Regions from separate parts of the Homo sapiens genome. Here regions 1 and 2 are each linked to region 3. The links come from fine-mapping of genetic effects on gene expression. A gene starts in region 3. Each other region holds a variant in brackets. All regions are shown on one strand. Distances are from middle to middle. Region 1 has its middle 26 kb from the start of LIPC. Region 2 has its middle 64 kb from the start of LIPC. Region 3 holds the start of LIPC (lipase C, hepatic type).

Evidence for each region. PIP is the estimated chance that this variant, and not a neighbour inherited with it, causes the effect. A credible set is the group of variants that fine-mapping cannot tell apart.
Region 1: its variant is the best candidate, but not a certain one, in a credible set for the expression of LIPC in whole blood (INTERVAL, PIP 0.57).
Region 2: its variant is the best candidate, but not a certain one, in a credible set for the expression of LIPC in whole blood (INTERVAL, PIP 0.81).

What each region holds. Positions count from the first base shown.
Region 1 is chr15:58,403,618-58,407,859 of GRCh38, forward strand. No RefSeq gene overlaps it. Among named protein-coding and RNA genes, the nearest start is that of LIPC, 26 kb to the right of the region's middle. The variant T/C (reference allele first, on the strand shown) is at 2,253.
Region 2 is chr15:58,365,552-58,369,793 of GRCh38, forward strand. No RefSeq gene overlaps it. Among named protein-coding and RNA genes, the nearest start is that of LIPC, 64 kb to the right of the region's middle. RefSeq lists an enhancer at 3,769-3,948. The variant T/G (reference allele first, on the strand shown) is at 2,275.
Region 3 is chr15:58,429,488-58,433,729 of GRCh38, forward strand. It overlaps LIPC (lipase C, hepatic type), which reads left to right and starts at 2,504. Exons shown (of 9, transcript NM_000236.3): 1 at 2,504-2,633. The coding sequence starts at 2,546. RefSeq lists an enhancer at 523-817 and a silencer at 523-817.

The DNA.
Region 1 (4,242 bases), 26 kb before region 3:
TTATTTGGCACAAGGAAGCCTTTAAAGGGTCCAGGTAAGACTGTCTCCTTTTGCTCCCCAGTGTCTCAAAGGCACCACCTGTCACCTGGCGGATGACTGACTCGGCAGCCTGAGAGTTCACGGGGGGCCAGCCTGCCTTGGACACAGCCCTGTTGAGTGAAGCCAAGGCATCTCACACAAGAGTGATAGGTTAAAGCCAACAGATGTCTTCACACCCTACATCATAGAGAAAGTCGGGCTGAGAGAGGAATAATTGACAGTGTCCCTGATCAAAACAGACATCTTGTCACAGCATATTTAGTGGAAAATACATAGGAAACAAATGCTAAATTCTCCATCCAGGCTGCAGTACCTAATATACCACTGCCAAGAAGAAAGCATTTAATAAAATCCTTTAAGTTTTATCTAGAGTAGATGCAATATGGAGCAATTAGTCAGACAGCAAGCTCATGGTGCAGTGCAAACAAAGCTGGTATAGACAAATAGGCACGGCACAGTAATCCAACAAATATGTAATGAGCACACCTACTATGTGCCAGACACCAAGCTAGGTTCTGACATCACACCAAAGCTGTTCTTTAAAGCTTCCAAAGCAAGTTCACGTACACACTCAAATCTGATTCTCACAAAACCAAGTGACGTAAGGGGTTATTATCCTATCTGCACTCTGCAGATGAGTAAACTGATGCTCACTGGGGTCAGAGGAATGATCCCAGTCATAAGACTAAGGCTTAGTATATCATCAGTCCATGACCATCTGTACTTTTCCGCAATGGGCAAGAATCTCAAAAAATAGAAAACGGAGAGTCAGAGAACATCTTGAGATGGAAGTCTCCCAATGTGTGAATTTCACTAGTTTTTAATAGTTCTAGATGTCACCCAAAGGCGACTTGTCTTCATGCCCCTGAATACCTACGTAATTTTTCTTACTTGTGCCAAAAGCCTGATCCTCAACTCTGTACTCGCTCTACCTCAGATGTCTCTGCATTTTGCCTTCTATACTTTTTGTTGGGAAGGGTAATGTATTAGTAAGGACATGTTCAGTTGCAAGCAAGAGAAAACCCAACTAACAAAGACTTAAGCAATAAAGACATTTAATTATCTTATATAACAAAAGATGTGAATGCAGGCAATTCCAGAGATGGCACCTTAGCTCAAAATTGTCATGAAACAAACAAGACCTTCCTTTCTTTCCACTCTACCATCCTTAGACTTGTTGCCTCGTGGCTATAAAATGGCTGCTACAGCTCTAGTCTAGTGTTCTCAGAGGTCTGTGGCCAAAGGCATATCCCAGTCACATGACCACTCCAGCAGCAAGGGTAGCTAGGAAAGCAAGAATCCAGTATTTGTGACCTTCATAGTGGGTGTGTGGTGCTGTGCATAAGGAAAAAAGTCAAGAGGGTTATTGGATAACTAATCCACCCCTTCTACCATAGGTAACTTTCTGATTCCTGGTCAGGGTCAGAGCTGAAAACGAATTCCTCTTGAACAGAAATATGGATTGGATTTCTTGACACTATATATCTGTTGCTCTACTCGTTTGCTATTGCTGCAAAATAAATAACCACAGACTTAGCAGCTTAAGACAATGCCCACTTAGATTCTCACAGTTCTATATAGGTCAGAAGTCCAGGAAGGCTTGAGTGGGTTCTCTGCTCATGTACTTACAAGGCTAGAATCAAAGTGTTAGCAGGGCTAACCTCTCATCTAGAGACTTGGGAAGAATTCACTTCCACACCCAATCAGGTTGTGAGCAAAATTCAGCTCCTTGCAATTGTAGGACTGAGGTCTCCATGGCCTTGCTGGCTGTCAACCAGGGACTAGTCTCAATGCCAAAGGCCACTCTCAGTCCTGGTACCTGGCACCCTCCATCTTCAAAGTCAGCAATGATGTACTGAATCCTTTTCATACTTTGAATCTCTCTGACTTCCCCACTTCTGCCACTAGCCAAAGAGGGCTCATGTGATTAGATAATAATATAGATAATAAGCCTTTTGCCATACTCATGGATGTGACACCAGAGGGTAAAGATCATAAGACCATCTTAAAATTTTACCTACCACAGTTACCACTAAAAAATATGTAATTAGGACTTATTCCTGGAGTTCAGGATAGGGTCAAGTTTCCCTGAATCATGACAGGGACAGGTGGACTGCCAATCAAAAGTAGGACTCTGCAAGTGAAAAGTTAAAGGAGAGAAGGGCTGTTGGGTGGGCAAAAAAGAGTGTCTGATTTAATTTTTTTCTGTGAAA[T/C]TGAGTTATTAACCTGTCAACATAAATTCACAGAGCTATAATATTGGAGAGGAGAGGTTTGTTTTTTATAAAGGGTTGCAGCCTGCAGGCTGGAAATCCCACAGGCTTGGAAGCACAGCCTCCAGCAGAAACCAAAAGCAGGCACTTTGAGGGAGGAAAGAGTAGAACAGGAATTTGTGATGAACGGGTTAGCTAAGTACACATATTCAACAGGTTATAGGAAGAGCTATGAATATTCCCGAAGGCAGGTACACACATGCCTAGTAAACAAACATGCATGTTACATGCGTCCCATGTTCACTTTGGGGTACAGACTTAACATTTAAATTCCTTGCAATTAGGTCCTATAGGTCAAATGGTGAAGCAGGGGACAGGAAGGCACTCTGTGCAAGCCTCTGTAAACTGGCCAGAACCAGTCTATGGTCAGTGGACTCTTAACCAGGAGAAAGTTACTGAAATCAGTCTCTTATCCAATCAAAGTAGTAGTTATGGCTTGCAGAAAAGGGGTAGGGAGATGGATGAGTTAGTGTCTGGTGGTTGGTGAGCTGCAATTATTTCAATATTGCTTCTCCAGAGGCCAGTGCTTATTTAGCGGCTAGAGAAAAAGAAAAACCTTGCAGCTATTAGAACCTAGTTTATTCTTTAAGTGTTGGGATGTGTGACTTAACCCTACCCTGGCATGGCCTTGGGTCTTGTTTATAATTTAGTATCTTTTTGCCACAAAGAGTCCATTCCGTCATTCTTATGATCTCTATTTTAACACCCCTAATTTAGTTAAACAGTAGAACATCATCTAGCTGGTGAAAATTATTTTTTTATAAGAACATAATGTATAAAAACCACTGATCAGGACAAGGATCCCTGCTTCATTTAACTTTCCCGTCCTCTCCCTCCACCCTCACTATCCCCACCCCATCTCCTCAGCCTGCACCACGCTCCCCCACGGACTATGAAGAATGCAGACTCACAGGGAGTTTCATAGTGTTTTCTTGCAAAAGTACTGAGTATAGCCAGATTTCTCATGTGGATTTTTCACTGGTTTGTTTCTGTTAGGCAAAACGGAAGGACAAGGGTTGATGGAGAAGGGAGGCACATCTCATACAGCTTCCTCACAGCAGGTCCTAACACTGTCCATTGTGTTTAGAATGAGCCTTTATGTGGCTTTCCATGGGTTTCTGGTGAAAAATCACAACCCTCTCTGAGACGGAGATGCCCCATCACCTGTTCTTTCACTGCATTATTTTCTGTTTCACTGCCTCAAACCAGACTCAGACCTCCAGTGCTCTTTATTTCAATTACTTTTACCTGTTTTATGACATCTATTTGGGTTTAACTTTTGGTTCCTCCACCAAAAAGTCTGAAATTCCAGGTCAGAGTTCTCCAAGGAGCTTATATGTGTTTGCACAAACATGTGGAAATCCTTAGGAACTACCAATTATCAACCACTCAGAACTCAGTGCCTTGGTATTTTTTGCTGTTGTGGAGGCTTGTGTTTACCTTTTATTTTAAGCACTTTCCAGCCCATCCTCTTGAAGCACCTGGCCTTACCAGGGGCCTTGCTCATTTGTTCTTGCTGCCTCCTCCATTCAGAAGACCCATCAATCAGTGTCTGAAACAAGGACCTTCTGTGTAGAATCAAAAGCCACCACATCACAGCTGAAGGCAACAGAATGCAGTGGGCATTGTTGTTTGTACACAGGCCTTCGTCTCTTTCAGAAGTGTCTCTGTTTGAAATGAATGAGGCAGACAAGAGTGTGGCTTCAAAAGCAACTCTCCCCCTCTGGGCTTTGCTTATTGAAAGTCCTGTGAGCACTGTTACTAGAAAGTAAAGAGAATAAAAGGCAAACCTGAGGCAGGCTACAGGTTCCCAGGCAAGGCAGTCACATCCAGCCTCAGCCAGGCAGTACCGCCAGTCATTGGCCTTCACTTTGTCTATTTGAGTTTGCAAGGTTAACATGAAAGAGGCTGTTTATTTTCTCCCAACGATTAT
Region 2 (4,242 bases), 64 kb before region 3:
CATCTACAGAACTCTCCACCAAAAATTAACAGAATATACATTCTTCTCAGCACCACATCGCACTTTTTCTAAAATTGACCATATAATTGGAAATAAAACACTCCTCAGCAAATGCAAAAGAATGGCTATCATAAGAAACAGTCTCTCAGACCACAGTGCAATCAAATTAGAACTCAGGATTAAGAAACTCACTTAAAACCGTACAACTACATGGAAACTGAACAACCTTCTCCTGAATGACTACCAGGTAAACAACGAAATTAAGGCAGAAGTAAATAAGTTCTTTGAAACCGATGAGAACAAAGGCACAACATACCAGAATCTCTGGGACACAGCTAAAGCAGTGTTTAGAAGGAAATTTATAGCACTAAATGCCCACAGGAGAAAGCAGAAAAGATCTAAAATTGACACCCTAACATCACAATTAAAAGAACTAGAGAAGCAAGAGCAAACAAATTCAAAAGCTAGCAGAAGACAAGAAATAACTAAGATTAGAGCAGAACTGAAGGAGATAGAAATGTGAAAAACCCTTCAAAAAAATCATCGAATCCAGGAGCCAGTTTTTTGAAAAGATAAACAAAATAGAGCACTAGCCAGACTAATGAAGAAAAAAGAGAAGAATCAAATAGACACAATAAAAAATGTTAAAGGGGATATCACCACTGATCCCAAAGAAATACATACTGCCATCAGAGAATACTATAAACACCTTTACGCAAATAAGCTAGAAAATCTAGAAGAAATGGATAAATTCCTGGACACATACACCCTCCCAAGACTCGAGCAGGAAGAAGTCAAATCCCTGAATGGACCAATAACAAATTCTGAAATTGAGGCAGTAATTAATAGCCTTCCAACCAAAAAAAAAAAAAAAAAAAAAAGCCCAGGACCAGATGTGTTCACAGCTGAATTCTATCAGAGGTACAAAGAGGAGCTGGTATCATTCCTTCTGAAACTATTTCAAACAGTAGAAAAAAAGGGACTCCTCGCTAACTCATTTTATAAGGCCAGCCTCATCCTGATACCAAAACCTGGCAGAGACACAACAAAAAAAGAGAATTTCAGGCCCATATCCCTGATGAACATTGAGGTGAAAATCCTCAATAAAATACTGGCAAACCAAATCCAGCAGCACATCAAAAAGCTTATCCACTGATGATTAAGTCGGCTTCATCCCTGGGATGCAAGGCTGGTTCGACATATGCAAATCAAAAAAATGTAATCCAATCACCGTAAACAGAACCAATGACAAAAACCACATGATTATCTCAATAGATGCAGAAAAGGCCTTCAATAAAATTCAACACCCCTTTCTCCCAAAAACTCTCAATTGACTAGGTATTGATGGAACGTATCTCAAAATAATAAGAGCTATTTATGACAAACCCACAGCCAATATCATACTGAATGGGCAAAAGTTGAAAGCATTCCCTTTGAAAACTGGCACAAGATAAGGATGCCCTCTCTCACCACTCCTATCCAACATAGTATTGGAAGTTCTGGCCAGGGCAATCAGGCAAGAGAAAGAAATAAAGGGTATTCAAACAGGAAAAGAGGAAGTAAAATTGTCTCTGTTTGCAGATGACATGATTGTATATTTAGGAAACCCCATTGTCTCAGCCCAAAATCTCCTTAAGCTGATAAGCGACTTCAGCAAAGTCTTGGGATAAAAAATCAATGTCCAAAAATCACAAGCATTCCTATACACCAATAATAGACAAACAGAGAGCCAAATCATGAGTGAACTCCCATTCACAATTGCTTCGAAGAGAATCAAATACCTAGGAATCCAACTTACAAGGGATGTGAAGGGCCTTTTCAAGGAGAACTACAAACCACTGCTCAAGGAAATAAGAGAGGACACAAACAAATTGAAAAACATTCCATGCTCATGGATAGGAAGAATCAATATTGTGAAAATGGCCACACTGCCCAAAGTAATTAATAGATTCAGTGCTTTCCCCATCAAACTACCATATACTTTGTTGCCAGAACTAGAAAAAAAACTACCTTAAAGTTCATATGGAACCAAAAAAGAGCCCATATAGCCAAGACAATCCTTAGCAAAAAGAACAAAGTTGGAGGCACCACGCTACCTGGCTTCAAACTATGCTACAAGCCTACAGTAAACAAAACAGCATGCTGCTGGTACCAAAACAGATATATAGAATAATCAAACAGAACAGAGGCCTCAGAAATAATGCTACACACCTACAACCATCTGATCTTTGACAAACCTGACAAAAACAAGAAATGGGGAAAGGATTCCCTATT[T/G]AATAAGTGGCCTTGGGAAAAATGGCTTCAGAAAACTGAAACTGGACCCATTCCTTACACCTTATACAAAAATTAACTCAAGATGGATTAAAGACTTAAATGTAAGACCTAAAACCATGAAAACCCTGGAAGAAAACCTAGGCAATACCATTCAGGACATAGGCATGGGCAAAGACTTCATGACTAAAACACCAAAAGCAATGGCAACAAAAGCCCAAATTGACAAATGGGATCTAATTAAACTAAAGAGCTTCTGCACAGAAAAAGAAACTATCATTAGAGTGAATAGGCAACCTACAGAATGGGAGAAAGTTTTTGCAATCTATCCATCTGACAGAGGGCTAATATCCATAATCTACACAGAACTCAAACAAATTTACAAGAAAAAGACAAAAACCCCATCAAAAAGTGGGCAAAGGATATGGACAGAAATTCCTCAAAAGAAGACATTTATGTGGCCAAAAAACATACGAAAAAAAGCTCATCATCACTGGTCATTAGAGAAATGCAAATCAAAACCACAATGAGATATCATCTCACACTAGTTAGAATGGCAATCATTAAAAAGTCAGGAAACAACAGATGCTGGAGAGGATGTGGAGAAATAGGAACACTTTTACACTGTTCGTGGCAGTATAAATTAGTTCAACCATTGTGGAAGACAGTGTGGTGATTCCTCAAGGATCTAGAACCAGAAATACCATTCGACCAAGCGATCCCATTACTGGGTATACACCCAAAGGATTATAAATCATTCTACTATAAAGACACATGCACACGTATGTTTACTGTGGCACTATTCACAATAGCAAAGACTTGGAACCAATCCAAATGCCCATCAATGATAGAATGGATAAAGAAAATGTGGCACATATACACCATGGAATACTGTGCAGCCATGAAAAAGGATGAGTTCATGTCCTTTGCAGGGACATTGTTGAAGCCGTAAACCATCATTCTCAGCAAACTAACACAGGAACAGAAAACCAAACACTGCATGTTCTCACTCATAAGTGGGAGTTGAACAATGAGAACACATGGACACAGGGAGAGGGACATCACACACTGGGGCCTGTCAGGGAGTCAGGGGCAAGGGGAGGGATAGCATTAGGACAAATACCTAATGTAGATGACAGGGTGATGGGTGCAACAAACCACCATGGTACGTGTATCTATGTAACAAACCTGCACGTTGTGCACATGTATCCCAGAACTTAAAGTTTAAAAAAAAAAAAAAAGAGAGAGAATGCTAAGGATGCAGTGAAGTACAACAGGTTTGGAAAGACACTGTGAGAGTCTCAAGGCAAATTCTCCCATATCCCACGTGTCTCTGAAGTCCCTGTGTCCCCAGTCCCCATGCCCACTTCTCTCCACGCCTCCTTCCAGCTCACTTGTACCCTCATGGTGCCCCTCCTACAGATCTACCTGCCACCTTACATTATCACTGCACTGCCTCATATATCCTACTAAATCCTCTCTTCCTCCTGGTGCTCAGTTGGGTCCATCACCTTTCTCTGGGGCCCTACAGCACCCCTGGCTTCTACAGTAGCACTTGCTATACTCACTGTAATCCTTGTTGGCGCATATATCTCTCCAGCTAGACCATCAATATCTGCAGGAATGTAGCCTTTTTCCTGTACCCAGCCCAGATTCTGGTTCACCACATCCTTGTTGCCTGAGTAAATAATGAACTGAATCCTCCCAGGCCCATCCAAGCTTCTGTGACCACTCCAGTGAACAAGCTCACTCTCACACGGACTCTCCCCCGTCTCCCCTGCTTGCTTGCTTTCTCTTTCTCTCTCTCTCTCTGTCTCTGTGTGTGTGTGTGTGTGTGTGTGCGTGCATGCGTGTGTGTGTATCTCTGTTAGCACTGGTCTGGAGTTGTTACTAGCAGCTTTCTTATATAGCTGTAAACTGGTATTTTTCTATTTTTCTATTTGTATCTCCTCCCACCCCAAATGTCTGGGA
Region 3 (4,242 bases):
ACGTGCCAGCTTTATAGGAAAAAAAGTGGAACTTTCAGATTCTGCTTAACTGTGCAGGAGCCAGCCAAGTATCCAAGGCAGAAGTCCTTGCTCAGAAATTGTATATCTGATGGGCACGGTGACTCACGCCTGTAATCCCAGCACTTTGGGAGGCCGAGGTGGGTGGATCACAAGGTCAGGAGTTAGAGACCAGCCTGACCAACATGGTAAAACCCCGTCTCTACTAAAAATACAAAAATTAGCCAGGCATGGTGGTGGGCACCTGTAGTCCCACCTACTCTGAAGGCTGAAGCACTAGAATCGCTTGAACCTGGGAGGTGGAAGTTGCAGTGAACCGAGATCGCGCCACTGCACTCCAGCCTGGGCGACAGAGCAAGATTCCATCTCAAAAAAAAAAAAGAAAAAGAAAAAGAAATTGTATATCTGACGGGATGGTCCGCAAGCTTCGGGGCTTGGGAGGAAGGTACAGTCATAGGACAGAACACAGCTTTAGACTGGGTCAAGATCGTCCAAGTCTGGTGGTGGCTTCAGAAGGCCCTTTGAATGAGGCTCGTCCAGGCAATAATTACCATGTTATCTAATTTTGCCCGCTTAACGTTTCCACTTGGATGTCTAAGAGCCATCTCAAAGCCCCACGTGGCCAAGGCTGAATCTCTAATCTTCCCCCAACAGACCTGCTTCACTCACAGCTTCCCCTTCTCAGCTGACAGCAACCCCATTAATCTGCTTGTTCAAGCCAAAAAACCTGGAAGTCATCCTTAACTCCTCTCTTTCTCCCACATCTCACAACTCAGCAGTCAGAAAATCCTGTGGGCTCTACCTTCAAAATATATCCACCACCCATCCACCACTCCGCAGTTGCCCTTTACCATGCTGGGCCACGCCACCATCACCTCTCACTGGGCCACTGTAATAGCCTTCTAACAGATCTCCCCACTGCACCCTGGCTCACTTGCAAACCAGAGTGATATTTTAAAACTATAATACAAATCATATCACCCTTCTGCTCAGAGTCGCCCCCCATGTGTCAATGCATAAAAGTCAAAGTCCTTACAATGTCTCCCCATTCATTGGCCTCCTTGCTATTCCTGGAGCACACCAGGCATACTCCTACCTCAGGGCCTTTGCACAGACTGCCCGAAGCTCTCCTCCCCAAGACGTCCACAGGGGCAACTCCTTCACTTCCTTCAAACCTTTGCTGAAAGTTTAACTTCCCAATGCAATTCACTCTAACCACTCTGCTTAAAATCCCTACCTTCTCCCCAACCCCCTGCTTTTCTTGTAGTGGTTCCCATTACATTCTACCAGTCTACCTAATTTTTTTTTTTTTTTTTTTGAGACGGAGTCTCTCTGTGTCGCCCAGGCTGGAGTACAATGGCGCGATCTCAGTTCACTGCAACCTCCGCCTCCCAGGTTCAAGCGATTCTCCTGCCTCAGCTTCCTGAGTAGCTGGGATTACAGGCACTCACCTCCACGCCCAGCTAACTTTTGTATTTTTAGTACAGATGGGGTTTCACCATGTTGGTCAGGCTGGTCTCGAACTCCTGACCTCGTGATCCGCCCTCCTCGCCTCCCAAAGTGCTGTGATTACAGGAGTGAGCCACCGCTCCTGGCCAGAAATCTCTTCTTTATTATGTCTACTGTCCGTTATCCAACTCCAGAAGGTAAGAACCTCCACTGATACATAAGGACTTGTATACCCCACGTGCCTGCAACAGTGCTTGGCACCTAGTAGGCATACCAAAATATATAAATGTTGAACAAATGAAGAAAGTTAAAGTAAAACTAGAGGTCCAAAAATATCACAAAAGCCATCTATGGTCGCCTTTTCCCTACCTGATTTTGCTGAGTGGCCTTACTTTTCAGTCCTCTACACAGCTGGAACATTAATGAACACAGAGGGGGAAGAAGTGTGTTTACTCTAGGATCACCTCTCAATGGGTCACTTGGCAAGGGCATCTTTGCTTCTTCGTCAGCTCCTTTTGACACGGGGGTGAAGGGTTTTCTGCACCACACTTTGACCACAAGCATCACCAATTTCACTGAACCCAACAGAAATTTGGACCCTCTGGGGGCTCTCTGCGTGGCAGGGCCCTTTTCTTTTTCTTTGGGCTTAGGCTGCAATTTGAAACACCACTTTCCTGAGCCAGCATCCCCCTTGCAGCGCTGTCACAGGGAGGCTTAGGCAGCCACGTGGAAGCCACCTACCCCGACCTTTGGCAGAATTTCCAAACACAACACAGTAGCTTTAAGTTGATTAATTTGGAACTCTGACCTTGGCCCCAAAAGGTAAGAATACATAACAAGGTATTTTATTCTCAAAATGTGTCAGGATAAGAAGCACTTCTGTAAATCGACCTTTTTAAAATAGATATAATTAGATTTGCAGTTGGGGGCAGTAAAGAAAGGGTCTGAACAGTGGATAACATGTTGAGAGGTTAATTATTAATGGGCAGTCTTCCCTAACAAAGTATCTAATAGGCATTGTGGTCTCTTTGGCTTCAGAAATTACCAAGAAAGCCTGGACCCCGGGTGAAACGGAGAAATGGACACAAGTCCCCTGTGTTTCTCCATTCTGTTGGTTTTATGCATCTTTATCCAATCAAGTGCCCTTGGACAAAGCCTGAAACCAGGTAAGAGCCTGACTTTTCTCCAGAGATGGGCATGAACTTTTCTTTTTAAAACGTGTGTCACAAAGAATCCAGGGGTTTCTGACTGTATGGGACAGAGCTTGCTTCAGAGCGTGCCAGGTGGTTCTATACACGACCTCACAGGTTCACAGGGACACGTAGCCGTTTGTAAACAGAAATGAAATTTTAGAAAATCATCCTCGGATTAAAAGTCTTCTAAGAGTGCCTGCAGCTAGCAGTGAAGTCTCTTGCGTATCTGATATGGAAACAGTCATGCTAAAAGTTATTCAGCGGCAAATGATATGAAAGCGATTCAGATCTTCCTGAGAGTTAATGTGGCATCTAATTTGCAACCGGGGAGCCAGGCTTGCAATGAAATGCTCTGTCGGGTTGGGGTTGTCTAATTGCCTGCCTCTCTCAGAAGAGAGGGGAATTTATGAGAGTTCTATTTCCAGTCAGGTCTAAAGTAGAGATATCATTGCACAATTTCTAGACTTTGTTTTGCTGCCAAAATTTTAGTCTGAGGCTGAAGAATCCAACAGCCGTCCTGCCTGTTTTGTTTGTAAATTCACAAACTAGATTGATGGCGAAAGACAGATCAAATGCCTTATCAGGAAGGTAGTAGAGTGGAGCCCAGCTTCCAGGCTAAGCAGTGGACCAATAAATGACGGATCAGTTAATTGAACAATTTGGCCAGACTAGACAGGTGTTTGGGAATTTGTTTTGGTACTGGTTACTGGTCAGGAGCTAGTAACGCTAAGGTAGAGTCTGAGATTTTTCTTTTCTCTAAGACTAGCCTTGGAGAGAGCTCCGACAACTTTGAGAATTAGAAATTCCCTAACGGGATGTACCTAAAAATTTCAGAAGCTTTTTTCCCCTTTAAGAAAAAGGCTGTTCCTTTGTATTTGACTATTTTACTTCATAGGCCAGTTAATAACTGAGTAGCAGTATTAATTATTGCCATTCACTAAGTATTTTCTGTGCCAAGCACTATACTAATTATTTTTGACACATCATCTCATTTATAAAGCCACATCCAAAAATGACCCTTACATAATAATTTAGAGCCATACAGGTAAAATTGCTGGTAATCTTTATTCCCTTGGTTCATAGTGATTTTGCTAAAGGGCCTTTCCTGCCCTTTGCCCCGGAATGTTGTATTTGTTTGTTTACTTTTTAATGAAGTTTATAACACACTTCTAGAAAAGGGCCTCTATCATAAATCCTCAATGAGTTCTCACAAACTGAACCAGTACCCCAAAGCCTTCCTTGTGTGCCCCTTGAGCCTTAACATATATGATTTTTTCCTTTGGGGAGATTTTTCATTAATAGAAACACATCAGTTGCTCTTTTGCGTCTGGCTTCTTTCGTTCGACATTATGTTTGTGAAAGTCAACCATGCAGTTTCGTGGAGTTGAGGCTCATTCATTCTCACTGCTGTAGCATTCCACTGCGGGACCATGCCACACTTCCTTTATCCATTCTACTGTGGATTGGCCAGGACTGTTTTTGCAATGGAGCCATGGGAATTGGAAGCTGTCAGTGCTGAGATAGAGGTTGAAGGGAGGGATGGCCTCCCCCAGGCTTCTGGGTATTGTCCAGATTTTCCTTG